7 linked regions of the Homo sapiens genome follow. The protein of the gene in region 5 purifies or fractionates together with the protein of the main gene of each other region. This does not show direct contact. Each region holds a gene or a part of one and is shown on either strand. Other genes may lie near its edges. The genes, in order: TSPAN7, PLD2, MAP3K21, CNTNAP1, HAVCR2, GOLGA7 and PIK3C2A.

Region 1 (3,500 bases), on a different chromosome or scaffold from region 5:
TTGGGACGAGCTTGTACTAAATACAGGTCAGTAGGGGTTAGAGCTTTTTTCCCAAATGTAAACATTGGAGTTGAAATAGTCCTAGCTTTGGAAGGAAACATACAAGGGTTCAAATCCCAGCCTTCCATACATTAGCTGTGTGAATTTGGGTGGGTTATCTAAACCCCCAAGTTCCTATCACATTATATGAAAATATAACCTACACTGCATGGTGGTAGTGAGGAGAAAAATAAAATATCATACGCACCCAGTATAGCCTCTATCACATAAAAGGACCAAATCATATTTTAAAAATTTTATTGTTTTTAACTAACATATAATAATTGTACATATTTATGGGGTACAGTATGATGTTTTGATACATGCATACTCTGTGTAATGATCAAATCAGAGTAGTTAGCATATCCATTACCTAAAATATTTCTTTGTGGTGGGAACATTCTAAATCCTCTCTTCTAGCTATTGCTAAATATGTAATACATTAACTATAGTTACCCTACTATGCAATAAAACACCAGATAATTCCTCCTATCTAGCTGTGACTTTGTACCCATTGGCCAACCTCTGCTTCTCCCTCCTCCCCTGTCTCTAGACAAAAAAAAAAATAAATGCTGATGAGGATGTGGAAAAGGGAGAACTCTTATACACTGCTGATTGGAATGTAAATTAGTACAACCACTATGGATAACAGAGTAGAGGTTCCTCAAAAAATTAAAAGTAGAACTACCATATGATCCAGCAATCCTACTGCGGGGTATATACCCAAAGAAAATGAAATCAATATGTTGAGGAGATAGCCACGCCCCCATGTATATTGCAGCACTATTGACAATAGCCAACCTAAGTGTCCATACACACTGGACACAATGTGTCTATACACAATGGAATACTATTTGGCCATAAACAAGAATGAAATCCTGTCACTTGCGACAACATGAATGAATCTAGAGGATTAAGTGAAATAAGTCAGGGAAAGAAAAGACTAATAACTGCCTGATCTTACACATATGTAGAATCTAAAATTTGATCTAAAAGACATTTTTAAAGACCCAAATTAAGCCCCAAACCAAAAAACTTCTCTACTTCCCAAAATGCTCACCTGCCAGTGAACTTGTGTTAGGAGAAGAAAATGGTAGTGTGGTGTGAAGCCACCTCCAGAAGAGGCCAGAACTAACTATTCCATTGTTTATACACATATCCTATTTTATGACATTATACTCAGCTATGGGATACTTCTGCCCCACAAGCAAATTGAGAATTAGAACATAAAAATATCACCTCTCCCACCCCTCTCCAGTCATAGTATTTGGGCCGGGAGAAACTTTGGTGATTTAGTCCAATTCTATTTTGTTACAATTGGAGACAAAGGTCCAAGGAGGTTACATCCTTGCCGCTAAAGACTTTAAACAGTTAGTTGGAATCAGTCAGGTCTCAACACCACATCACTTCCCTTCTTGTTTGAATGGATGGTTTTTTAGAATTTTTTCTTTTCTCTGCTTTTGAAGTTAATTCTCCCCTTGCTACTCATTGTGCTAAACAAAAGGTTCTCAATACTGGCTACAAGATTGAATCCTCTGGAGAGCTTTTTAGAAAATAAGATGCCAGGGCCTCACCACCACTGAGGAGTCTACTTCAACCAGCTAGTGGTGGGATGCTGGCAAAGGTTTTTGCAAATGGCTTCCCAGGTGATTTAATCATGTATCTGGAGTTGAGGACTATGGCACTAGACCAAAAGAAACCCTAGTGTTTATGAGAAGTACTAGAAGGTAGACTCAGGGTGTTAGAATAGAGTGCCAGGTGACAGCAGCAGAAGCCTGGCCCATAATCAGGATGGGCCTCATTATGGCTTGCCCATCAACCTGAAGAATCAGTGGCGGCTGAGGCATCAGCCTCCTGTATGGTCTGCAGGATAGAAAATGGCAAAGTCAAGCACCACTTCTATGAGGTTGACAACAGAGACTGACTGCCCAGTGCCAGTTGGGAAGATGGTTCCTTTGGAATGAACCACTCTCACACCCACATATATCACTAGATGGTATTAAATGTTACTACAACCTAGGGCTACACAGGGACAGGCAACATGGCCCTGATGGAATCTTTGCTTCTCCCTTCACGGAGTAAGATGCCTGAAATAAATATTTTTAAACAAAATTTTATTTTGAGGACAGGTCCTTGCTAATTTTTATCTATAAAATCCTTTACCATTAATCCCCATCAGTGAAGAACATGAACAGTGAATAGAGAATTAGTTAACTGCTGTACCTAAAAGTTAAAAATCACAGTAATAGCCTTTCAATAGTCTGCCCTTATCATCTGGGAAGCATCACTGCTTTATCTGTCCCATGAGAGTATGCACCCTGCACTGGTCCTGGTAGCCAACACTTGACACTGCATAAGTCCTCTGGGTGGCAGGCTCTGGCTTAGCTCAACTCTCATAGCACTGAGACAGGGAGTACAGGTTCAGAGAAGACCACACACATGCATCCATGCATGGCCAGGCTCAAGGAGGTGGAAAGTATTTCTCCAATAGGAACTTGGAGGTGAAAGTCTGCTTATGTTCAGGATGCTGCCTTGCCACCAAAGCTGCATATCACATGCTTAAGGAGACTTCTAAGATATAGTTCAAAATTGAAACAGGGCGAGGCCGGGCACGATGGCTCAAGCCTGTAATCCCAGCACTTTGGGAGGCCGAGGCAGGTGGATCACGAGGTCAGGAGATCAAGACCATCCTGGCCAACATGGTGAAACCCCGTCTCTACTAAAAATACAAAAAAAATTAGCTGGGCGTGGTGGCGGGCGCCTGTAGTCCCAGCTACTTGGGAGGCTGAGGCAGGAGAATGGCATGAACCCAGGGGGTGGAGCTTGCAGTGAGCAGAGATTGCGCCATTGAACTCCAGCCTGGGCAACAGAGCGAGACTCCATCTCAAAAGAAAAAAAAAAAAAAGAAAAGAAACAGGGCATCTTGTCATGAGGATACAAATGGACTACTGCAATCACTGGCCACTGCTTTGTCATCATCTACCCAGAGGGACTGGGACTAGATTTAGTGTGCCAGGCTGTGTTTGGGGTTGTTTTTACCTCTAGGGGATTAAAGGATGGATTAGGAAAGAGTCTGGACTGAAATTGTTAAGGTCTTGTCTGTGACCTCAAGACGAACCACTTCACCTCCATGTAATTTATATTTTTACAAAAATATAGTTGAGAAAGCAGTATTATGTTGTGACATACTCACCAGTTTCAGCATCCATGGGCTACCACGACATGTAGCAAAGCATCCAAACAGGCCAAAGACAACAATAGTGGTGCCAGTTCCGATGAGCACATAGGGAGCATTTGTGGAGTTCTCGGCAATAAGGGAGATATAGGTGCCCAGAGTAAGTTTGCCCCAGACTCCAACAGCCAGCAGGATCACCCCAGTGATCTGAAAGAGGGAGAGGAGAGTGTGAAGCTATTGCCAAGAGAGGTGAGAATCAGCACAGAGCAATGTGGCCAAATTTGAA
Region 2 (3,390 bases), on a different chromosome or scaffold from region 5:
ACCACCGCCCCTGGCCAAAAAAAAAAAAAAATCTTTTTTTTTTTTCTTTTTTTTTGAGAGGGAGTCTCACTGTCGCCCAGGCTGGAGTGCAGTGGCGCGATCTCGGCTCACTGCAGGCTCCGCCGCCCAGGGTTCATGCCATTCTCCTGCCTCAGCCTCCCGAGTAGCTGGGACTACAGGCACCCGCCACCTCGCCCGGCTAATTTTTTGTATTTTTAGTAGAGACGGGGTTTCACCGTGTTAGCCAGGATGGTCTAGATCTCTTGACCTCGTGATCTGCCCGCCTCCGCCTCCCAAAGTGCTGGGATTACAGGCATGAGCCACCACGCCCGGCCAAAAAAAAAAAACTTTTGTGTTTTGTTTGTTTGTTTGTTTTCTTTTTGAGACGGAGTCGCTCTGTCACCCACGCTGGAGTGCAGTGGCGCGATCTCGGCTCACTGCAAGCTCCGCCTCCCGGGTTCATACCATTCTCCTGCCTCAGCCTCCCGAGTAGCTGGGATTACAGGCGCCCGCCACCATGCCCAGCTAATTTTTTGTATTTTTAGTATAGATGGGGTTTCACCGTGTTAGCCAGGATGGTCTCGATCTCCTGACCTCGTGATCCGCCCATCTCAGCCTCCCAAAGTGCTGGGATTACAGGCATGAGCCACCGTGCCCGGCCAAAAAAAAAATCTTTTAAAAGTAATTTTTTTCACAGGTTCTGAGGATTGGGGAAAGAACAGAAAAAGAAGAAAATTTAAAATAAAAATAATTTTTTAAAGCATCAAGGTAGTCATCAAAGTCAAGACAAATCAGAACTCTGTTGGCTTCTTTTACACTTATTTTACTATTTTATATTGCATTTATTTTGTTTTTGTTTGTTTGTTTGTTTTGAGATAGGGTCTTGCTCTGTCACCCAGCTAGAGTTCAGTGGCGTTACCACGGCTCACTGCAACCTCGACTTCGCCAGCTGAAGTGATCCTCCCACTTCAGCCTCCCAAGTAGCTGGGACTATAGGCACATGCCACCGTGCCTGGCTAATTTTTGTATTTTTTTGTAGAGATGGGGTTTTGCCATATTGCCCAGGCTGGTCTTGAATTCCTGAGCTCAAGCAATCCACCTGCCTCATCCTCCCAAAGTGCTGGGAATACAGGCGTGAGCCACCGCACCCAGCCAATTTTGAATTACCTGAGTAGGGACAATGTAACTTTTCTGGTACTCAGGTTCTCTAAGGATCTTAATCTGGCCCTGCTGGGACCCCTTTCTCCTATAGTGTGATTCTTGGAGCAAATACCCGGCCAGACTTGGATCTCCGAGACCCCATCTGTGATGACTTCTTCCAGTTGTGGCAAGACATGGCTGAGAGCAACGCCAATATCTATGAGCAGGTGGGAACTTGGGAGGGGTGGGGGAGAGTGGCCTGGGGAAATTTGTGGATTATCCTGCTCAGGGTAGGATGGAGAGAAGCGCCACCATACAGTCATTATTGGAAGGGGGATGAGGGCCTGGGGACATTTGCTATCAAGAGATTTAGTGGCCCAGGCCGGGTGCAGTGGCTCATGCCTGTAATCCCAGCACTTTGGGAGGCCAAGGCCCGGTGGATCACCTGAGGTCAGGAGTTTGAGATCAGCCTCCCAACATGGCAAAACCCCATCTCTACTAAAAATACAAAAAAATTAGCTAGGTGTGGCTGGGAGGCTGAGGCAGGAGAATCTCTTGAACTCAGGAGACAGAGATTTCAGTGAGCCGAGATCACGCCATTGCACTCCAGCCACCTGGGCAACAAGAGCAAAACTCTGTCTCAAAAAAAAAAAGTACAAAAGTTAGCCGGGCATGGTGGTGGGCACCTGTAATCCCAGCTACTCAGGAGGCAGAGGCAGGAGAATCACTTGAACCCGAGAGGTGGAGATTGTAGTGAGCCGAGATCGCACCATTGCACTCCAGCCTGGGCAAAAAGAGTGAAACTCCGTCTCAAAAAAAAAAAGAGAGAGAGAGTTAGTGGCCCAGGGTCAACGGGGGGTATGGAGAGATGGTATGGGGGAAGGGGTCTAGCCTAGTTGGACTTAGATTGTTGGGAGAGTCTCCCCAAGCCTTACTGGCGTCCATGCCCCCGCCCACAGATCTTCCGCTGCCTGCCATCCAATGCCACGCGTTCCCTGCGGACTCTCCGGGAGTACGTGGCCGTGGAGCCCTTGGCCACGGTCAGTCCCCCCTTGGCTCGGTCTGAGCTCACCCAGGTCCAGGGCCACCTGGTCCACTTCCCCCTCAAGTTCCTAGAGGATGAGTCTTTGCTGCCCCCGCTGGGTAGCAAGGAGGGCATGATCCCCCTAGAAGTGTGGACATAGTTGAGGCCCCCGTCAGGGAGAGGTCACCAGCTGCTGTGCCCCACCACGTCTGGCTCCCTGCCCCTTAACCCCAAGGACTGAGGGCAGTGCCCTTTGAGATCTGGGGAGGCAGGCATTCCTGAAGGGAACTAGAGGTGTTACAGAGGACCCTTACGTGAGAAATAGCTGAAAAGGGCACTCCCAACCCTGGGCTGGGGAGGAGGAGAGAGTCCCAGAGCTCATCCCCCCTGCTGCCCAGTGCAAACCACTTCTCCATGCTGCAAAGGAGAAGCACAGCTCCTGCCAGGGTGAGCAGGGTCAAGCCTCTTATTCCAGGAGAAGGGGGCTCTGCCCCAGGCCCTACTACCCATTGTTCCCTTCCTCTTCCTGCCCTTGAACCCCCTCCCTGTCCCAGGGCCCTCCCAGCCCATTGCTGCCAAGGTGGAGGGAAGGATAAAGCCACTTCTGGCTTCAGCCCCCACCAGGGGAAGGAAGGAGGGCACATTAACTCCCTCCACCAGCCTGCTGACAGACACTAACTTTGTATCCGTTCAATAAGCATTTCATAAATAAAGGTGTAGAAAAGGTTCATGCGTCTTCCTTGGAGGAACTAACTGCTCGTTCCAGCCTCCCGTTCCTGCCCACACGGGGCACCAGTCCCCTTCACCTTATCTCCACCCTCCTCCACTCTCCTCTCTCCACCTCTGTTCTACCTATCTGTGGCTTCGGGAGCTCGGTCACCTGGCTCCTGAGAGGAGAAGGTGTTGACACAGTGCCGCCTGGGTAGAAGGACGGGCAGGGCCCAACCAGGGCACCTGGAGAACTGTGGAGCTGCTATCACAACCGCAGGTGAGGGAGATGCTCTGAGAAGGACCTAGAGAGGCTGCCTCTTGTTCAAGCAACAGCCCTGGTAGAGGCTTAATGAAGGCCCTGTGGGAGTGGTTGAGGGTATAGGCTTAAGGTCAGGAAGACCTGGACCCAAATCCTGGACTCCTCAATGAGAAGCTAGGTGAACTTGTCAAGTCATTCACTTCTCTGGGCCTCAGTGGTCCCCGCTGGGAAATGGGAATAATACTTACATGACTAG
Region 3 (4,265 bases), on a different chromosome or scaffold from region 5:
AATAGGGCTTATGGAACACATGGACAAGTCACCCATTCTATGGCAGCACCTGGTCAGACGTTTCTTTTATTGAAAAAAATATATATATATTATCGAAAGAAAAGTATATTTTAGGAAATTGCGCTCTGTTTTTACTGTAACACAGTTCAAAAGCAAGCAATGCTATAGTCCTTCATGTGGTCTGTCAAAGTACTAAGAATACACCGCTACCAGTAACAACATATTTTGTTAGACTTTGCTCTCATCACCTAAGCAGATGCAATCTAAATTATAGAGAGACTTGGGGGGAAGGAGGATCATGAAATAAAACCTAATGCTTATGCTTAGCTACAACATTCCAATTATTTACAATTCCCAGTGAAAATGCTACATTAGTAATTTTCAAGTAAATTTCTTCTTGTCACTCTTCTTTAGGGACAATGTTTTCACTTGAGCTAGCTCCTGTCCTAGCAGGTTTCACAGGATTGAAAGACCTCCAGCTGTTGTAGGCCAATGCCAGGGCTGGCTGCATCCTTTAACCTTCCCTGGGATTTCATCTCATTATAAGAATATGAAGCGATCTTCAATATTAAAGAACCAACATCAAACAGCAATTCTATAGGCTCTTTTATACAGCAAAGTTTCATAGGATTTGCATTTAAGTCATTTGTCAGTTCTTTATTGACATCTGGAAAATCCACCCTGATTTATAAACAAAGTCAATGACACTGGCCAGGTCTTCAAGGTTTCAAGTACCTGTGCAAGGACAATGCACTTGTTATTAACCCAAAAGTGCATTACGGTGCACACCAGTGCCTCTTGTCTGGAGAAAAGAAGCCATTGAACCAATAATAAAATCATATTTCACGTAGAGACACTTTTTTTTTTTTTGAGACAGAGTCTCACTCTATCTCCTAGGCTGGAGTGCAGTGGCGCGATCTTGGCTCACTGCAACTTCCGCCTCCCGGGTTCAAGTGATTCTCATGCCTCCGCCTCCCGAGTAGCTGGGATTACAGGCGCCTGCCACTACGCCGGGCTAATTTTTGTATTTTTAGTAGCGACAGGGTTTCGCCATGTTGGCCAGGCTGGTCTCAAACTCGTAACCTCAGGTGATCCGCCCACCTCGGCCTCCCAAAGTGCTGGGATTACAGGTATGAGCCACCGCGCCTGGCCCATAGAGAGACATTTGAATGAAAACAGTCTTTGGAAAAGGTAAGAGACATGAAGTCATATTTTGAATAGGCAAACAGCAACCTCAATACAGCACTTGTAAAGTTGACGTCCCCGAGTGCATTCGGGGACTTTGATGAAGGCCACCGGGTGAAGACGGTCATGGGTTCCATATAATCTGCAGAAGGCCTCGGTTTGCAAAGTCCTACCCAGATGAATCACCTCTGGTATTGAAAGGCCAGACTGCCCCCTGAGGTTTCTAGGAGATCCAGGTATTTTACAAATGTTTCCTCTACAAGCAAGTCTGGTCTGAACTTTTTTAAAAAGCACCCAAAGGCAAGTCAAGGTTAAGCGTGTCACCAGCCCCAAAGCAAGTAACCAAGGACTAGCTGGACTTCCGAGCCCTGAAGGCCTGGGCATGAGTTGCTGCTGGCGCCCTAAGGCTGACTCCCACCTCTTTCCATCTGGTACTATGTCCTGTGGAGCCCGCCTGGGCTGGCACGGAGGTAGTCTTCCCCCACCTCCCTCTGGCCCCACTTACTGTTGCTGGACTTGAGGTCCCGGTGCAGGATGGGCACGAAGGCCTCCTCATGCAGGTAGAGCATGCCCCGCGCTATCTGCACGGCCCAGTTGACCAGCACGTGCGGAGGGATGCGGCGCGCGCGGCGGGGGCCGGGCGCGCGCGGGTCCGGGGCGGCGTTGGCAGCGGCCAGCGCTCGGTTGAGCGCTCCGCCGCGGGCGAACTCCAGCACCAGGCAGAGGTGCGGCTGCTGCAGGCACACGCCGCGCAGCTCGATGATGTTGGGGTGCCGCAGCATGGCGAAGAGCCGAGCCTCGCGCCGCACGCTCTCGGCAGCCGCCGCCGCGTCCTGCTCCGGGTCCTGGCGCGCCGCCTTCACGGCCACCTCCTGGCCCTGCCAGGTGGCGCGGTACACCTGCCCGAAGCCCCCAGCGCCGATGAGCTCCTTCAGCTCCAGCCGCTCGAAGGCGACGTGTACCGGGGAGCTGGGCCGCGAGGGCGGCGGCGCGGGGCTGGCGGCCGGGCGGCAGGGAGCCACGTAGTTGGCGGGGAAGATGCCGAGGCGCCGCTGCACCTGGCCTGCCCACCAGCCCTCGTCGCCCGACACGGCGGCGTCCTGCGACAGCACCTCCACCAGCTGGCCGCGCCGCAGGCTCAGCTCGTCCTCGCCGCGAGCCTCGTAGTCATAGAGCGCGGCCCACAGCCCCGCGCCCGCCGAGGCCGAGCCGCCCGAGGAGGTGGACGACGAGGACGCTGAGCCGCCGGGGGCTCCCCCGGCCGAGGACACCGGGGTGTCGGTCGCTCCCGCGGCGCCCCGCAAAGCCATGGGGGCAGCTGCGCGGGGAAGGCGGAGCGGGAAGCTGGGCTCAGCCTCCCGGGCGGCCGCGGGCGCGCATCGTCCGGCGGTGTGGCCGTCGGCGCCGGGGGAAGGCGAGGGGGTAGGAATCGCGATCGGTGACGGCAGAGATCACGGGCTAGCTGCCCAAAGGGTCCAGCCTCGGCCCGCGTTCCTGGCCAGCCGCCTCTGCTGCCGCAGCGGTCCCCGAAGCCGCGGGCGACGTCCCACCATGGTCGTGCCCAGGCCCTGCGGCCGGCCCGCCCGCCGCGCGCTCCTTAGCCAGAGCCTGGGACGCCCCACCCCACCCTAGCCGCGCCAGGGCCGCCCCGCCCCCTCCGGCTCCATTCCGCACCGCCCCCCCACCCCCCCGGGCCCGCCCCTAGGCCAGTCCCCAGGGCCTTCCCGCCCCTCCCCCAGCCGCCCCGCCCTCTCCAGGTTCATTCCGCCCTCCTTGACCCGTCCCGGGCGCCCAGTCTGCGCCCGCCCTATGGGACCGCCTTCCTAGGTTCGCCCCACCCTTCCCCACCAACTGCACCATCCCGCCCCGCCCTCGCCAGGTTCACTTCCCTTTTCTGTGCCAGTCCCCAGAGCCTCGTCCCGCCCCTGGCGCCCGGGCCCGTCCCCCACCACCTTGGGCCGGGCCCGCCCCCTGGGCCCGCCTGGCTGGTCCCACCCCGCCCCCGCCGCAGGTGCTCCGGAGCAATGGTGAGCCGCGCCCACATGGTCTGGGAGGCGGGATCGGCCGTCATCCGCTATAAATTTTCGGGAGAGTTTAAATTAAGCCAAAGGTAAGACTGAGGGAGGGGACGCTTCTCCAAGAAGCGGTGGGAGAGGGTTGAGAAGATGTGGGGCTTTAGGGTGTGGCGGGGAGAGAGAGAGTTGCAGTTCAGGGAGAGTGACAGAATCTCAGAACGGGCTACAGAAGAAATTGTAGCGCGGTGCCAGACCTGGGCCAGTGCGAGTGGCAAGTCACCATGCTAAGTGCGTTTGAGCCACCGTGCATCTCAGAACTGACTAGGTTACAGATCGCAGCGCAGAGTGACCCGTGGTCGGTATAGTCCCAGAAGCTCCATGATGGTAAATCCTTTGCTTATTTTTACTGTCTACTCAGATGGAAAATGCCCCAGTCTCCCTGGAAACCCACAGGTTTGGGTTTAGGAAGCATTGGCAATGGCTGGGTGCCAGACGTTGGTAGGTTACTGTGGCAGGTGATGAGGCTAAAAAGATAGAAGAGCTTAGTTATTAAAATTCTAAAATATTAGATTATCCTGTAGTAGGCCAGAATTTCCTAACGTGTGGATCCTGTACTTCCAATAACAGAAGGGACAATTTTAGATATTATGAGGATAGGACATACAGTAACATTCTGAGTTACATAAAGATAAATTTATTGTCTTTTCAGTTTTCTTTGTCTCTCAGATCAAACTATTTATTGGCTGTGTGACCTTGAGCAAGTTTCTTTATTTCTCTATGACTCAGTTTTCTCATCTATAAAATGGGAATATAATAAATAGTACCTACTTTATAGGGTTTTTAGGAAGACTAAATGAGTTAATAGTTTTACAGTGGGTCTTCTGCATCCACAGAATCAACCAACAGCTGGTCAAAAATGTTTTTTAAAAACCCAAAAAATAACAATACAAATAATACAAATAAAATACAGCATAACAACTATTTACAGAGCATTTACATTATATTAGGTATTATAAGTAATCTAACTATTTAAAGTATGGGCATACTTTGGAGATACTGCAAGCA
Region 4 (3,500 bases), on a different chromosome or scaffold from region 5:
TAAGGCCTGGACCAAACTGCCCCTTTCTTGTAGCATTTGGTGCTAGCAAAACACTGGAGTTGAGTGAGAACTGGATTCCAGTCTCAGCTCTACCACTACACAGAGATGTGACCTCGGATGGGGCACTTCCGAGCCTCAGTTCCCTCCTTGTAAACACACACACACAGACGCACACACATTGTATCTCATTAGCTTTTCATAACACCCGCACATGAAATAGAAGCAGCTCATGTGTTCCCAGTTTTACAGACAGGAAGCCAGGCTAAATGGCTTACCCTGTCACACACTCGCCAATGGCTGTTGATCTATTCGCCCACTCTCCCTGATTGCCCTGGGCTTTGTTACACGCTGCTGCTCTGCCTAGGAGCTTGGACTCCATGGAGTTCTCCTGGCTTGAGGTTTCACTCTGTCCTGCCCCACCCTCAGGCAGCAGCCCTATCCAGCCAAGACCAGGTCACACCACCGTGAGCGCAGGCGGAGTCCTCAATGACCAGCACTGGCACTATGTGCGGGTGGACCGATTTGGCCGCGATGTAAATTTCACCCTGGACGGCTATGTGCAGCGCTTTATTCTCAATGGAGACTTCGAGAGGCTGAACCTGGACACTGAGGTGAGAGACTAGGGAGGTGCTATTTCGTGGTAGGGTAGATGCTGGATGAGTGAGTGCAGGTCGGTCTCTCCCTTTCTCTTTTCCTCTGTCTCTCAGAGGAAAGACCTGGCATTCAGGCTGTGGGTGGTGGCTCATGCCTGTAATCCCAGCACTTTGGGAGGCTGAGGTGGGAGGATTGCTTGAGGCCAGGTGTTCAAGACTCACCTGGGCAACATAGTGACATCCTACCTCTATTTAAAAAAATTTTTTTTTTCAAAGACCTCGCATTCCAATTCCTGAATATCCTAGCAGCCCTTGGCAAACTTGCCACTCACCAGAAAAAGGCCTGTTTTTTTTTTTTTTTTTTTTTTTTGTGGGTGTTGTTGCTGTTAGCATGCAGACTCCCAGGCACTATTTCAGAACTAATGAGATGGGGTTTGGAAATTCAGATTTTGGGGACTAGGCAAGGTAGGAAAATTGTTCCCTTGGATCCTCCCACAACTTTGTGGAGTTGTTAAAGACCCTGACCCCATCTGCAGATAAGAATCCCAGGCAGGCTAATTGACTTGCCCAAGGGCGTGCAGCCGATTTGTGTTGGAGTCAGAGCTTGAACTCAAGCCTTGAAAGGCCTAGCGAGCTTTAGTACCGACACTGGGGAAATGTGTGTTTTAAGTCTTTTACAAAACCCCATCTGGCATTTGGGAAAGCATACGGCGGGGACGCGCGAGAAAGGCAGGCGCCCTCCTGTGCCCAAGAGGCCTCATTCCCCACGCCTCCCGCAGATGTTCATCGGAGGTCTGGTGGGCGCCGCGCGGAAGAACCTGGCCTATCGGCATAACTTCCGCGGCTGCATAGAAAACGTAATCTTCAACCGCGTCAACATCGCAGACCTGGCCGTGCGGCGCCATTCCCGGATCACCTTCGAGGCCAGTGGGCAGGGGGGTCTGGGAGGACAGGATATCAAAGCGTCGTGGAAAGCAAAGAGGTGGAGCGGGAAGAGATATTGAACATCAGATAAAAGCGGAGAATCCCTCTGTCCCCAGCCAGATGCTCAAGTTGGGAGGGGAGCGGGTCTCACCTGAGGTGCATGAGCCACGCAGGCCCCTAGTTAAGAAGCAGTGGTCGGGTCCAATCACCTTCTTAGTTCATAGATGAAGAAAGTAAGGCGCAGACACAGGGAGTGGCTTGTCCAGGGGTCGTGCAGCTGCACGGTGGCTGAGTAGGGACTTGAACCGATGGCTTCTCTGATATGCCCCCCTCAACCCTCTCCGACTCTGGAGCTCTGTTGGGAAGCTGGCAGGAGCCAGGTCTGTGGTCCAAAATTGCCTCTCGATACTGGAAGGAGAGAAGCGGTCGAATCGCAGACGGTGGAGATCAGCGAGAGCAAGCGAGCAGAGTTCCGAGGGCCGACTGGGTTGGGGCCCCCTCCACAGATGGACGAGCTTGGAGGGGAAGAGGTCACGTCATGGTTGGAGATCTCACCCCCGCCAACACCGAAGGAGGGCGGTGACCAGGGTCTTAGACCGGTGTGAAAACTGAATTCCCAGCTGAGGCAGAGGCGGCTCACGGGTGTTGATGCGTCTTCACTTTTGCCCCTAGGGTAAGGTGGCTTTTCGTTGCCTGGACCCGGTACCGCACCCTATCAACTTCGGAGGCCCTCACAACTTCGTTCAAGTGCCCGGTTTCCCACGCCGTGGCCGCCTGGCAGTCTCATTTCGCTTCCGCACCTGGGACCTCACCGGGCTTCTCCTTTTCTCCCGTCTGGGGGACGGGCTGGGCCACGTGGAGCTGACGCTCAGCGAAGGGCAGGTCAACGTGTCCATCGCGCAGAGCGGCCGAAAGAAGCTTCAGTTCGCTGCTGGTGAGGGCGTTTCGGGGGAGGCACAAGAAGAGAAGAGAAGTGTAGAGGATCCCAGGAAAGTTGTAGGCCTGGACTGAGGCCTTTACATTCTGGAGAGGGGAGAGGAGTGAAGGGGGCAGGGCAGGAGGCCCCAGGGTACTGGGAAAAGGTGGGAGTGGCTAGAGGCAGTGAGGAGGCGAATCTGAGGGACTAAGTATTCTTGGAGAAGGGGGAAGCCTGGGAGTCCTGGTATTCTCCAGTTCCAGAAGGCCCCTGGAGATTTGGTTACTCGTTTATAACTGTGCAGACTCTGTGGCAGTTGCTGGGTCATGGATAATGAAGAGACATTCAGAGAGGTCTCCACTGGGTGTGAGAAGTGTAATCACGGGGGCACACAGGCTGCTACTGGGACACAGTGGGGCTGCTGCTTCCCCACTCAGAACATTCTTCTACCCTAGTTGCTGCTTCCCTCCACCCACACCATCATCCATTCTTGTCCAGGGTACCGACTGAATGACGGCTTTTGGCACGAGGTGAATTTTGTGGCACAGGAAAACCATGCAGTTATCAGCATTGATGATGTGGAAGGGGCAGAGGTCAGGGTCTCATACCCGTTGCTGATCCGGACAGGGACCTCATATTTCTTTGGGGGTAAGTGGGGGCCAACCTGACCAGACCTCTGTTTCTGGGTGGGAAGGCTCCATCTAAGTCCACCCAGATGGGGCCACATGGAGAATTTTGGAGGGATCAAGCCCTCTTCCCCTCTGGGGCCTCAGGGAGTGGAAGGTCATTGCCATCTACACTTTGGTTGTAGTCCCCTTTCTTCCTTTATGTCTGGCTCCCCCTCAGCATGTCCCTGGGGGAGGGTCTTTGGGGTCTCCCCTGGGGAGGATCTCACAGGGGTGGTTGCTCCAGGTTGTCCCAAGCCAGCCAGTCGATGGGACTGCCACTCCAACCAGACGGCATTCCATGGCTGCATGGAGCTGCTCAAGGTGGATGGTCAACTGGTCAACCTGACTCTGGTGGAGGGCCGGCGGCTTGGATTCTATGCTGAGGTCCTCTTTGATACA
Region 5 (4,110 bases):
TTGCAGTGAGCCGAGATCATGCCATTGCACTCCAGCCTGGACAAAAAGAGCGAAACTCCATCTCAAAAAAATAAATAAATAAATAAAAATAAAATAAAATAAAATGAGAAATTGATTATGATCTCTTGAGTAACTGCCACTCTGCAATGCTATGGGAAGTACACACATTGAACAAGTTGCATATTTATATTAAATGCCATTTGTTTATATTGAACAAATTTGGTATTTATACCCAATGCATTTAATGGCATAAATGTGAATGACAAAGAAACTCAGGAAGGCAAGACATAGAGGAAGGCCACTGGCTTTTCAGAAACCACTCAGCCTGTGAGCTCACTTCCCTTTTATAAAAAAAAGCTTTTGCTTTTAAGGTGTCCAGATAAAGGTCACACTCCCAGAGCTGAGGCTACGTGAGTCTAAGCTGTTACCTCAGTTATGGGAGTGTGGCTGGAACTCAACACTTTCTGATCATTCATGGCCAAAGCCTCTTGGGGTAGGGGAGAGGGGGCACCTTGTATGCATGAGATGAAACAGGATACCAAGATCCCCTTAATTCTACTCAGAGTAGAGGAAAGGAACTGTTGCCAAAAGGAACATGTTTTTTCTAAATTGAAGAGTTGGAAGTTTGAAGGTCAAAGTCAGAATATTAGAACAGAGAGCCATGCATGTATTATCTAATACAATTTTCTCATTTTATAAATTATATAAATGAGGAAACTGAGACTCAGCAAGGTTATAGGATACAACCTAATCTGTGTTAGAAGAAGGATGAGAGTGAGGCTTATGCTGGGAGTTGCTATGGTCTGTAAATGTGAGGATAAGGAACATGCCATTCACTGTTGTGTTCCACTTCCTAGTCCAGTGCCTGGTGCAAAGTAGGGGCTTCATAAACTTTGGTCACAGGCCTGATGAAGGGACTGATTTGAGTGAATGAATCCATGGATGATGCATCTGTACTTTGTGTTCCCCGCTAGTCAGATGGACTCGGACATGCTCCATTTCAGGTGTATCTCATCTGAGACATTATTAGAGGGTTCTCTTTATGTGCCATGACTGAGTAGCGTTTTCTTCCACTGAAGTATTGCTTCCTCTTTGTTGATATCACAGGACAGACATCAGAACACTTACAGGATGTGTGTAGTGTGGCATGACAGAGAACTTTGGTTTCCTTTAATGTGACTGTAGACCTGGCAGTGTTACTATAAGAATCACTGGCAATCAGACACCCGGGTGTGCTGAGCTAGCACTCAGTGGGGGCGGCTACTGCTCATGTGATTGTGGAGTAGACAGTTGGAAGAAGTACCCAGTCCATTTGGAGAGTTAAAACTGTGCCTAACAGAGGTGTCCTCTGACTTTTCTTCTGCAAGCTCCATGTTTTCACATCTTCCCTTTGACTGTGTCCTGCTGCTGCTGCTGCTACTACTTACAAGTAAGTCTCGGCATGGATATTTACAATGACATAATGGTGCTGTACAGAGGACAAGGGAGAGATACAAGGATGGCCATTGTAATGTTGTTTGTAATAGCAAAAGCTTGGAAGCAACCTAAATGTCCGTCGATGAGGGAGTGGGTAAATAAATGTGATATAATCATGATACAAACAGTGAGTCTGACAAAACATACTGGTATAGAATGTCTCAAAATTATAATGTTATTAAAGAAAAAAAGTTGCAGAATAATGCATATATTAGGCTTCTATTTGTGTGTGTGCATTGTCGGGGAGCAGGAATATGTGGACATTTCTTAATGTATAAGCTCTAGGAAAAGGAACCAGGGAATGGTAAAGAGTTGGGAGAGTAAGGCATATTTTTCTTTTCTTTTCTTTCCTTTTTTTCTTTTTCTTTTCTTTCTTTTTCTTTTTTTCAATTGAGATGGAGTCTCACTCTATTGCCCAGGCTGGAGTGCAGTGGTGGCACCATTTTGGCTCACTGCAATCTCCGCCTCCCAGGTTCAAGTGATTCTCCTGCCTTAGGCACCGGAGTAGCTGGGATCACAGGCGTGCACCACCACACCCAGCTAATGTTTTTAATTTTTAGTAGAGACAGGGTTTTACCATGTTGGTCAGGCTGGTCTCAAACTCATGGCCTCAAGTAATCTGCCCATCTCAGCCTCCCAAAGTGCTGGGATTACAGGCGTGACCCACCGTGTGCCCGGCCACTTTTTCATACACCTTTGATAGTGTTTGAATGTTTTTACTGTAGTTGAGTCATATGAAAACAAAGGGGACATAAAAAATCAAAAGAAAATATATAATGAATGTTTTATCATATATAAAATATATATAGTTTTTTTTTAATGGAATTAACTTTGTCATTTGAGGAAAATGAGGAGACAAGTCTCAATCATTTTAGGAGATTTGTTTGCCAAAGTTAAGGAGGCACCTGAGAGACAGGTCTATGACTTTCTCAGAAGATGATTTTGAGGGCTCCAGATTTAAAGGGGACAAGGTGGGATATTGAGAAGCACTCAGTTTTCACATAAAAAAGGGGGGGGGGCAGAGGAAAAATATGGGGAATCTGCATTTTACATTAGATAACACAGACAAAATGGGGTAGGGAAACAATCAGATAACGCATTTGTGTCTGGCCAGGGTGACCGCACCGGTAAAGATGAGCTATCAATCTGCATTGCACAGCTGACCAGGAATTTCCTTGTGGGCAAAATATGGGGGAGGTATGCAGCCTTTCATCCTGTAGCCATCTTATTCAGGAATCAAAAAGAGGAGGCAGGTTTCTGTGACCCAGTTCCCAGCTTGACTTTTCCCTTTGACTGAATGAGTTTGGGGTCCCAAAATTTAATTTCTTTTCACAACTTTAAACCTTAAAACAACTCCATGAGTAGTTTCAAATACACAAGATCCTTATTTAACCAAGGGTTTGTATTTACTGTGCACTTGCTGCTTAAAAAGAGAAGTATGTTAGGAGAGCCTCCCTTTGTTGATGAACAAGCAAGTAGCCCAGATGGGCGGGCCGTTTCCTGGCTGACCATGACTAATTTTCTGATTGTCTGTTTCCATCAGCCCTGTTCTCCCGTGTTCACAGAATTGGGCCACAATTCTCTCCTAGGGCAGTGTTTCTGAAAGTGAGGTTCTGAGACCAGCCACTTCAGCAACACTTGAGAACTTGTTAGAAATAAAAGTTCTCAGGCTCTACCACAGGCCAACTGAGTCAGGAACTCTAGCAGTTGAGCCCAGCAATCTGTGTTTTCGCAAGGCTTCCCAGTGATTCTGATGGCCTTCACATCTGAGAAGCATTGTCACAGCGAATCATCCTCCAAACAGGACTGCAGCAGTAGCTTCCTCTTTATTCTGTAAGACATGGCTTGCAGTTTTCCTGAAATGGAGTAACCTCACTCACCGCTTGAGTCTTGGCTCTCCTTCTCTCTCTATGCAGGGTCCTCAGAAGTGGAATACAGAGCGGAGGTCGGTCAGAATGCCTATCTGCCCTGCTTCTACACCCCAGCCGCCCCAGGGAACCTCGTGCCCGTCTGCTGGGGCAAAGGAGCCTGTCCTGTGTTTGAATGTGGCAACGTGGTGCTCAGGACTGATGAAAGGGATGTGAATTATTGGACATCCAGATACTGGCTAAATGGGGATTTCCGCAAAGGAGATGTGTCCCTGACCATAGAGAATGTGACTCTAGCAGACAGTGGGATCTACTGCTGCCGGATCCAAATCCCAGGCATAATGAATGATGAAAAATTTAACCTGAAGTTGGTCATCAAACCAGGTGAGTGGACATTTGCATGCCATCTTTATGAATAAGATTTATCTGTGGATCATATTAAAGGTACTGATTGTTCTCATCTCTGACTTCCCTAATTATAGCCCTGGAGGAGGGCCACTAAGACCTAAAGTTTAACAGGCCCCATTGGTGATGCTCAGTGATATTTAACACCTTCTCTCTGTTTTAAAACTCATGGGTGTGCCTGGGCGTGGTGGCTCACACCTCTAATCCCAGCACTTTGGGAGGCTGAGGCCGGTGGATCATGAGGTCAGGAATTCGAGACCAGCCTGGCCAACATAGTAAAACCTTGTCTCCACTAAAAATACAAAAAATTAGCCAGGCATGGTTACGGGAGCCTGTAATTCTAGCTACTTGGGGGGCTGAA
Region 6 (3,500 bases), on a different chromosome or scaffold from region 5:
CACATCACTCTCTTGATTAAATCCTTTGAGTAGCTTCCCACTTGCACTAAAAATAAAATCTACACTTCATTCCATGGACTAGGCACTCCATGTTACAGCTCCTGCTTACCTCTCCAAATCCACCTCCCATCATTCTCTGCCCCTCCTCTCCTGTGCATCACCTTCTCTCAGTTCCCAAGGTCCATCAAGCTCTCTGGGCCTTTGTGTATGTTCATCTTTCTGCCTTAATGCCCCAGGCTTTTCATCCTTCATGCAACAGCTTAAATGTCACCACCTCAGAGGCCTCTTCTGACCACACACCCTAGATTAGGTCCCGCTTATTATTTTCAAGCATAGGCCAGTTTGTTTCCTTCAAGGCACTTATCATAATGTGTAATTTTGCTGGCTTTGTTTCCTTGTTATTATCAGCTTTCACCACTTAATTATAAACTCCACAAGGTCAGCAACCATGTTCGCCCTGTTCCGTTATGTCCCAGCACTTTGCTTAGCACATAGTAGGCTTTCAATAGTTACTGAGCAAACAAATCCCCTGAGCCTTCACTCACTGAACGTATTATTAGAGAGGAGATACACTGAAACAGACTGAAAGCTGACATAGAGCCTTGATAACTTCTGATTTTGAAAGTTTAAACAGGAATGAAAGCTTCTCTGTGTATTGATATGGAAGGGAAGAGCACGGTCCCTTTAAATCATACAGAAGCAGGCAGGGAAGTGCTGGGTAGAGAAGGGCATGGTCCCTGGCTAGCGCTCCACCTCCAGGCCTGTGCCCAGTAGTGAAGACAGACATTTTTGTTTTCCTGCCCAAATGCTGCATTTCCACCCTGGCCTGCCACACCCCTATCCTGTGCCTATAAAAGCCCTGAGACCCCAGCAGGCAGACAAACAGGTGGCTGGATGTCAAGAGGTGCACATTAGTGGAGGAACACACAGGGTGGCTGGATGTCAAGAGGAACACACTGGCGTAGGAGCACACTGGCACACCGGTAGGCCATCAATTGGCAGAATCAGGTGGAGTTTGGCCAGGGTGGTTGGAGAAGAGTTCGGTCATCGAGCGGCCTGACTCCAGGGGAAAACTATCTCCCTTCTGGCTCCCCCATCTGCTGAGAGCTACTTCCACTCAACAAAACCTTGCACTCATTCTCCAAGCCCACATGTGATCCGATTCTTCTGGTACACCAAGGCAAGAACTCTGGGATACAGAAAGCCCTCTGCCCTTGTGATAAGGCAGGGGTCTAATTGAGCTAACACAAGCCGCCTATGGATGGCTAAACTAAAAGAGCACCCTGTAACATATGCCCACTGGGGCTTCAGGAGCTGTAAAACATTCACCCCTAGACACTGCTGTGGGGTTGGAGCCCCACAGCCTGCCCATCTGTATGCTCTCCTAGAGGTTTGAGCAGCAGGGTACTGAAGAAGCAAGCCACACCCCATCACACGCCCTGCGAGGGGGACAAGAGAACTTTTCCTGTTTCAACATGGGGAAGGATATAAATAACTATACTTAAATATACCTGTTTATATGAGATGGAACAGGATGGTAATGAAGAATACAACAGCATTTTCAGCCAACAGCTCCAAAAACTTTAGCTGCAACTATATGCACTCTCCACTACATGGAGTGTAAGACATTTCTATCAGATGGGTCATAATATATTCTTATAGCATTTCGTTTTCTAAGCACTGTCAGAATTTAGTGATATACCAGGGGCTTACCATGATTAATTTACAGTCATTTATTTAACATACATTCAATGAGTGCCTGATATACCCAAAGCATGGTGTTAGGCATGAAGAGGGATACAAAATGGTTAAGGCATTGTCCTCAAGAAAAGTACATACTTGAAAGGCAAATAAGACAAGAAAATAAACTGCTACATTCCAAAGAAGAGTGAGGCAAGTGCCAGAAAACAGATACAAATAAAATGTTGTAGGGACACAAGAGAAGAGAAAGAATTCTGACTAAAACAGAGAACAAGTTAGATGGAAGTGAGACCTAAGGGACTGGTGGGATTTGAACCTGGGAAGATAGCATTCCAGGTGGAGGAGAACCACAGTGGGTATGTTTGCTGACCAGTGAGGGATGGAGTTTGGCTGAGGGAGAAAGTGAAGGAAGGAATGGGAGGTAGCGCTGGAAAGGTAAGCTGAGGTCAACTTGAGCAGGGCCTTGAATTTTACTCAGTGGTAAAACATGGGAATCCAGGGAAGGTCTCCGACTTGGCAGAAGTAGTAGGGGAAGTAAATCTGCGCTTTATAAAAACAACAGCAGATAGTTTAGAAAAGCAAAAGGAGGGAAGAAATGAGACAAGTCAGACTATTTCAATAGTCTAGGAGAGACAGAATAAGGGCATAACCCAGGATAGTGGCAGAGGAAATCACAAAAAGTTAATGACTGGGAAAATGAAAGATACTTCAGTCTTTGAAAACAGATTAATTTTTCCCTCTTCTTCATCCCTCATGCCCAAAGATGGTACTGAAAAGACAGGGGTGCTATTGACAAAATGGGGAGGTGGGAGGTTTGACTTCTGGTCATCTTAAGTTGAGAAATCAGCAATTCGGGAGCTAGTAGGCAGCTGGAAAGAGAAAGTAAGAACTCAGGTGGGAGAAGAGAGTGAAATTTAGGGAAATAAAGTAAAAACATTCCCAGAAAGCTGAGTAGGAAGAGAACATATAGATTTTCTACATTCTTCTTAAGTGTAGGCCAGTCTGAACATTGACACATCATCTGCAAGTGGACATACCAACTGCAACCTGTTTTGAAAGACTCAGGACTATGTGCCTCTGTACACAGGAACAACACAATTTGAATGATAAATGCCCCTAAATATTTTACGGCAACTATCACCATGTAAGCATCAATGTGTAATAAACTTGCCTTCTTCATGATTTTAAGAGATTTTTGTGAAAACAAATGTAGCATTACCTTCTCATAATGAGTTTCCATGCATAGGAAGATGGTATATGCTGTTAAACAAGCCAAACAACCTTCGAGATATGACTGGCCGCCGAGCTTCTCTGCTTCTGCATAAAGGTTATTTAGAGTTCGAACTGTTTCTTCAAACTGCTGCCTATCAATCTGTAGAGAAGAAAATATTTAAAAATTAAGTTTTGGAAAAAAAAAATCAACTAATGCATGCTATCATTAATTTATCTTGTTTTCTCACCATTCTTAGTTGACAATTTTTTTGGTGACTAAATCTGGGCCTAAGTTACCAAAACTGCTTAATTTGTTTAATTTTATCCCTCTTATAAATACTGGATAGCTTCAAGGCTCAATAAGGTACTTCTTTATTCTTTCTACTAAATTTCAAGTAACTTTAGGCTCTATTCCTCTTTCCATTCATTTAGTTTCACACTTACTGAGCGCCTACTATCAGATACTATGAAAAATCTCAAGATAAAGCACTGTCTCAATCCTTAAGAGTTTAATTATGCAAGCAGAACAGGCAATGTAAACATAAAAATGCAGTAAGCTGGCCAGGTGCGGTGGCTCATGCCTGTAA
Region 7 (3,500 bases), on a different chromosome or scaffold from region 5:
CCCAACAGTGTATAAGGTGTTAAGTGTTCCTTCACCCAGATTTTATCTGTTTTATTTTGTTTATTTTGTAGTATATTTTTCTAAGTGGCTTAAAGTCCAAAGTCATATGGGGTAGGTTGCAAACAAAATATATTTATGTTTAGAAATCTAATTGAGTGTTATGTTTATTTTTATGTATAGGCCTTGCTATTTTGGAAGCTACAAGAAAAAAATAGAGGAAGGAAGGTTTGGTCTTTTTAGTGGACATGGCTCAGATATCTAGCAACAGCGGATTTAAAGAATGTCCATCTTCACATCCGGAACCAACAAGAGCAAAAGATGTGGACAAAGAAGAAGCATTACAGATGGAAGCAGAGGCTTTAGCAAAACTGCAAAAGGATAGACAAGTGACTGACAATCAGAGAGGCTTTGAGTTGTCAAGCAGCACCAGAAAAAAAGCACAGGTTTATAACAAGCAGGATTATGATCTCATGGTGTTTCCTGAATCAGATTCCCAAAAAAGAGCATTAGATATTGATGTAGAAAAGCTCACCCAAGCTGAACTTGAGAAACTATTGCTGGATGACAGTTTCGAGACTAAAAAAACACCTGTATTACCAGTTACTCCTATTCTGAGCCCTTCCTTTTCAGCACAGCTCTATTTTAGACCTACTATTCAGAGAGGACAGTGGCCACCTGGATTACCTGGGCCTTCCACTTATGCTTTACCTTCTATTTATCCTTCTACTTACAGTAAACAGGCTGCATTCCAAAATGGCTTCAATCCAAGAATGCCCACTTTTCCATCTACAGAACCTATATATTTAAGTCTTCCGGGACAATCTCCATATTTCTCATATCCTTTGACACCTGCCACACCCTTTCATCCACAAGGAAGCTTACCTATCTATCGTCCAGTAGTCAGTACTGACATGGCAAAACTATTTGACAAAATAGCTAGTACATCAGAATTTTTAAAAAATGGGAAAGCAAGGACTGATTTGGAGATAACAGATTCAAAAGTCAGCAATCTACAGGTATCTCCAAAGTCTGAGGATATCAGTAAATTTGACTGGTTAGACTTGGATCCTCTAAGTAAGCCTAAGGTGGATAATGTGGAGGTATTAGACCATGAGGAAGAGAAAAATGTTTCAAGTTTGCTAGCAAAGGATCCTTGGGATGCTGTTCTTCTTGAAGAGAGATCGACAGCAAATTGTCATCTTGAAAGAAAGGTGAATGGAAAATCCCTTTCTGTGGCAACTGTTACAAGAAGCCAGTCTTTAAATATTCGAACAACTCAGCTTGCAAAAGCCCAGGGCCATATATCTCAGGTATAGTCTTTTCTTACTAACTTCTCAAACTTAGTATAACACAGAGTTCATATTTGTGTACATAATTTGTGTTTTTTTGTTTTTGTTTTTGTTTTTAAGAAGGAGTCTCGCTCTGTCGCCCAGGCTGGAGTGCAGTGGCGTGATTTCGGCTCACTGCAAGCTCCGCCTCCCAGGTTCACACCCTTCTCCTGCCTCAGCCTCCCGAGTGGCTGGGACTACAGGCACCCGCCACCACACCCGGCTAATTTTGTGTATTTTTAATAGAGACGGGGTTTCACTGTGTTAGCAAGAATGGTCTCGATCTCCTGACCTCGTGATCCACCCGTCTCAGCCTCCCAAAGTGCTGAGATTACAGGCGTGAGCCACTGCGCCCAGCCCATAATTTGTTAAGAAAAAAAAATATTTTTCACTTTGAATTTTGTTTTTCTTTGCTCTCAAGTGTGCTTTGATTCTTTGCTTGTGTGGCAAAGGATGAAATGTGATTAGGCCAATTGAAAAATTGCTTGCTATTAATATTTTTCTAGGATTGTAAATAAAAAGCCTCTAATGAAGGAACTGGCTGTCACTGAGAGGCATTTAAGATATTTTAAATTTGTCTGTCCATGTCTCCTCATTACATATGCTCCCTTCTTTCTCTTCCTTATTCCTGTTTTTTTTTAAATGCAAATAAGAAATTTTGGTTTTTAGCCCCATTATAGAAATTCTCACGCATTTTGTTTTGTTGTTTTTAACCATGAATCAATGAATAAATAACCCCAGAGAGAAGAGCAATTTAAAGGACTCTCCCTTTAAACACTTTTGTCGATAAAAGTGAAGAATGAAATATTACCATTGCAGATTTGTGTTTTGCTTTTATATCTGTGTATCCTGGGAATGTTTAAGCCTCATTCTCACTTTAACGTGAATTAATATTCAGCTAATTAGATCAGCACTTACCTACTATTTTATCATTGGGAGTTAACTAGCATTTAGATGGGGAAGGGAGGGATGGATTTTGCATGATTTGGATCGGTTTATGTTGAATTGTTGACTTTATTTATTACTATTATTATTTTGAGATGAAGTTTTGCTCTTGTTGCCCAGGGTGGAGTGCAGTGGTGCAGTCTTGGCTCACTGCAACCTCCACCTCCCAGGTTCAAGCGATTCTCCTGCCTCAGCTTCCTAAGTAGCTGGGATTACAGGCATGTGCCACTACACTGGCTGGTTTTGTATTTTTAGTAGAAACCGGGTTTCTCCATGTTAGTCAGGCTGGTCTCGAACTCCCGACCTCAGGTGATCAGCCCACCTTGGCCTCCCAGTATGCTGGGATTACAGGCGTGAGCCACCATGCCCGGCCAAATTGTTGACTTAAAAAAAAAACATTTTGGATGTCTGGAAGGAAGAGAAATCGGTGTTAAGAAGGTTTAGACAGCATGATGGCTCATGTTTATAATCCCAGCACTTTGGAAGACTACGGTGGGAGAATCACTTGAGCCCAGGAGTTTGAGACCAGCCTGGGCAACATAATGAGAACCTGTCTCTAACACAATTACAAAAAAATTAGCTGGGCGTGATGGCATACTCCTGTGGTCCCAGCTACTTGGGAGGCTGAGGTGGGAGGATCGTGTGAGACCAGGAGGTTGAGACTGCTGTGACCCATGATTGTACCACTGTACTCCAGCCTGGGCGACAGAGCAAGACTCTATCTCAAAAAAAAAGGGGCAGTTGGGGGGAAGGCACTGGTCCCCCTAATTTTCCCATCCTGCAGGGCCCAGGTCACTGCTGGATTCATATTCGGGTCAATTTCTAATAGGCAGATGACTCCCCAGCTGTGGGTCTCTATTTTATAGGTTTCTCATGAGAGAAATGAATTCTGTGTTTAGTGCCTGGAGTCAGGATTTGAGATGTAGTCTGGATTTAAGATGTCAGCTGTTTATAGTTGTTTGGGAAGGGCAACTGCCTTGAACCTGGAGACAGACATTGGGGCTCTGATAAGTTAGTCTTGCTATCAAAGAAAAGGAAGCCCCTTGTCTTGTAGGGAGCTGCGCTTAGGCTCAAGCCTTGCACTGGTAGAAGGCAGAGCCCCACAATGAATGCATTGTAGCTACAATAGATTGTCTTGAAGTTAATACAGATGTTTATAAATTACCTTGATTAATTTAATTATATCTTAAATTCTGAACTTCCCATTATTGAAAAGTCATTTACCTA

What was found.
Region 1: the proteins of HAVCR2 (region 5) and TSPAN7 purify together in Homo sapiens (affinity purification with mass spectrometry; 2 studies listed by BioGRID and IntAct, with this or other methods). This does not show direct contact.
Region 2: the proteins of HAVCR2 (region 5) and PLD2 purify together in Homo sapiens (co-immunoprecipitation; 3 studies listed by BioGRID and IntAct, with this or other methods). This does not show direct contact.
Region 3: the proteins of HAVCR2 (region 5) and MAP3K21 purify together in Homo sapiens (affinity purification with mass spectrometry; 2 studies listed by BioGRID and IntAct, with this or other methods). This does not show direct contact.
Region 4: the proteins of HAVCR2 (region 5) and CNTNAP1 purify together in Homo sapiens (co-immunoprecipitation; 3 studies listed by BioGRID and IntAct, with this or other methods). This does not show direct contact.
Region 6: the proteins of HAVCR2 (region 5) and GOLGA7 purify together in Homo sapiens (co-immunoprecipitation; 3 studies listed by BioGRID and IntAct, with this or other methods). This does not show direct contact.
Region 7: the proteins of HAVCR2 (region 5) and PIK3C2A purify together in Homo sapiens (affinity purification with mass spectrometry; 2 studies listed by BioGRID and IntAct, with this or other methods). This does not show direct contact.

The regions. Positions count from the first base shown.
Region 1 is NC_000023.11:38,666,042-38,669,541, reverse strand, and holds part of TSPAN7 (tetraspanin-7), read right to left. Parts: intron 3,422-3,500; coding exon 3,233-3,421; intron 1-3,232. UniProt on the Homo sapiens protein: May be involved in cell proliferation and cell motility.
Region 2 is NC_000017.11:4,820,541-4,823,930, forward strand, and holds the end of PLD2 (phospholipase D2), read left to right. Parts: intron 1-1,252; coding exon 1,253-1,367; intron 1,368-2,099; coding exon 2,100-2,324; 3' UTR 2,325-2,890; downstream 2,891-3,390.
Region 3 is NC_000001.11:233,326,259-233,330,523, reverse strand, and holds the start of MAP3K21 (mitogen-activated protein kinase kinase kinase 21), read right to left. Parts: upstream 2,801-4,265; 5' UTR 2,496-2,800; coding exon 1,691-2,495; intron 1-1,690. UniProt on the Homo sapiens protein: Negative regulator of TLR4 signaling. Does not activate JNK1/MAPK8 pathway, p38/MAPK14, nor ERK2/MAPK1 pathways.
Region 4 is NC_000017.11:42,685,531-42,689,030, forward strand, and holds part of CNTNAP1 (contactin-associated protein 1 precursor), read left to right. Parts: intron 1-426; coding exon 427-611; intron 612-1,372; coding exon 1,373-1,516; intron 1,517-2,189; coding exon 2,190-2,451; intron 2,452-2,931; coding exon 2,932-3,081; intron 3,082-3,345; coding exon 3,346-3,500. UniProt on the Homo sapiens protein: Required, with CNTNAP2, for radial and longitudinal organization of myelinated axons. Plays a role in the formation of functional distinct domains critical for saltatory conduction of nerve impulses in myelinated nerve fibers.
Region 5 is NC_000005.10:157,106,245-157,110,354, reverse strand, and holds the start of HAVCR2 (hepatitis A virus cellular receptor 2 precursor), read left to right. Parts: upstream 1-1,310; 5' UTR 1,311-1,371; coding exon 1,372-1,429; intron 1,430-3,392; coding exon 3,393-3,728; intron 3,729-4,110. UniProt on the Homo sapiens protein: Cell surface receptor implicated in modulating innate and adaptive immune responses. Generally accepted to have an inhibiting function.
Region 6 is NC_000008.11:41,497,082-41,500,581, reverse strand, and holds part of GOLGA7 (golgin subfamily A member 7), read right to left. Parts: intron 3,074-3,500; coding exon 2,921-3,073; intron 1-2,920. UniProt on the Homo sapiens protein: May be involved in protein transport from Golgi to cell surface. The ZDHHC9-GOLGA7 complex is a palmitoyltransferase specific for HRAS and NRAS.
Region 7 is NC_000011.10:17,166,487-17,169,986, reverse strand, and holds part of PIK3C2A (phosphatidylinositol 4-phosphate 3-kinase C2 domain-containing subunit alpha), read left to right. Parts: intron 1-180; 5' UTR 181-245; coding exon 246-1,310; intron 1,311-3,500.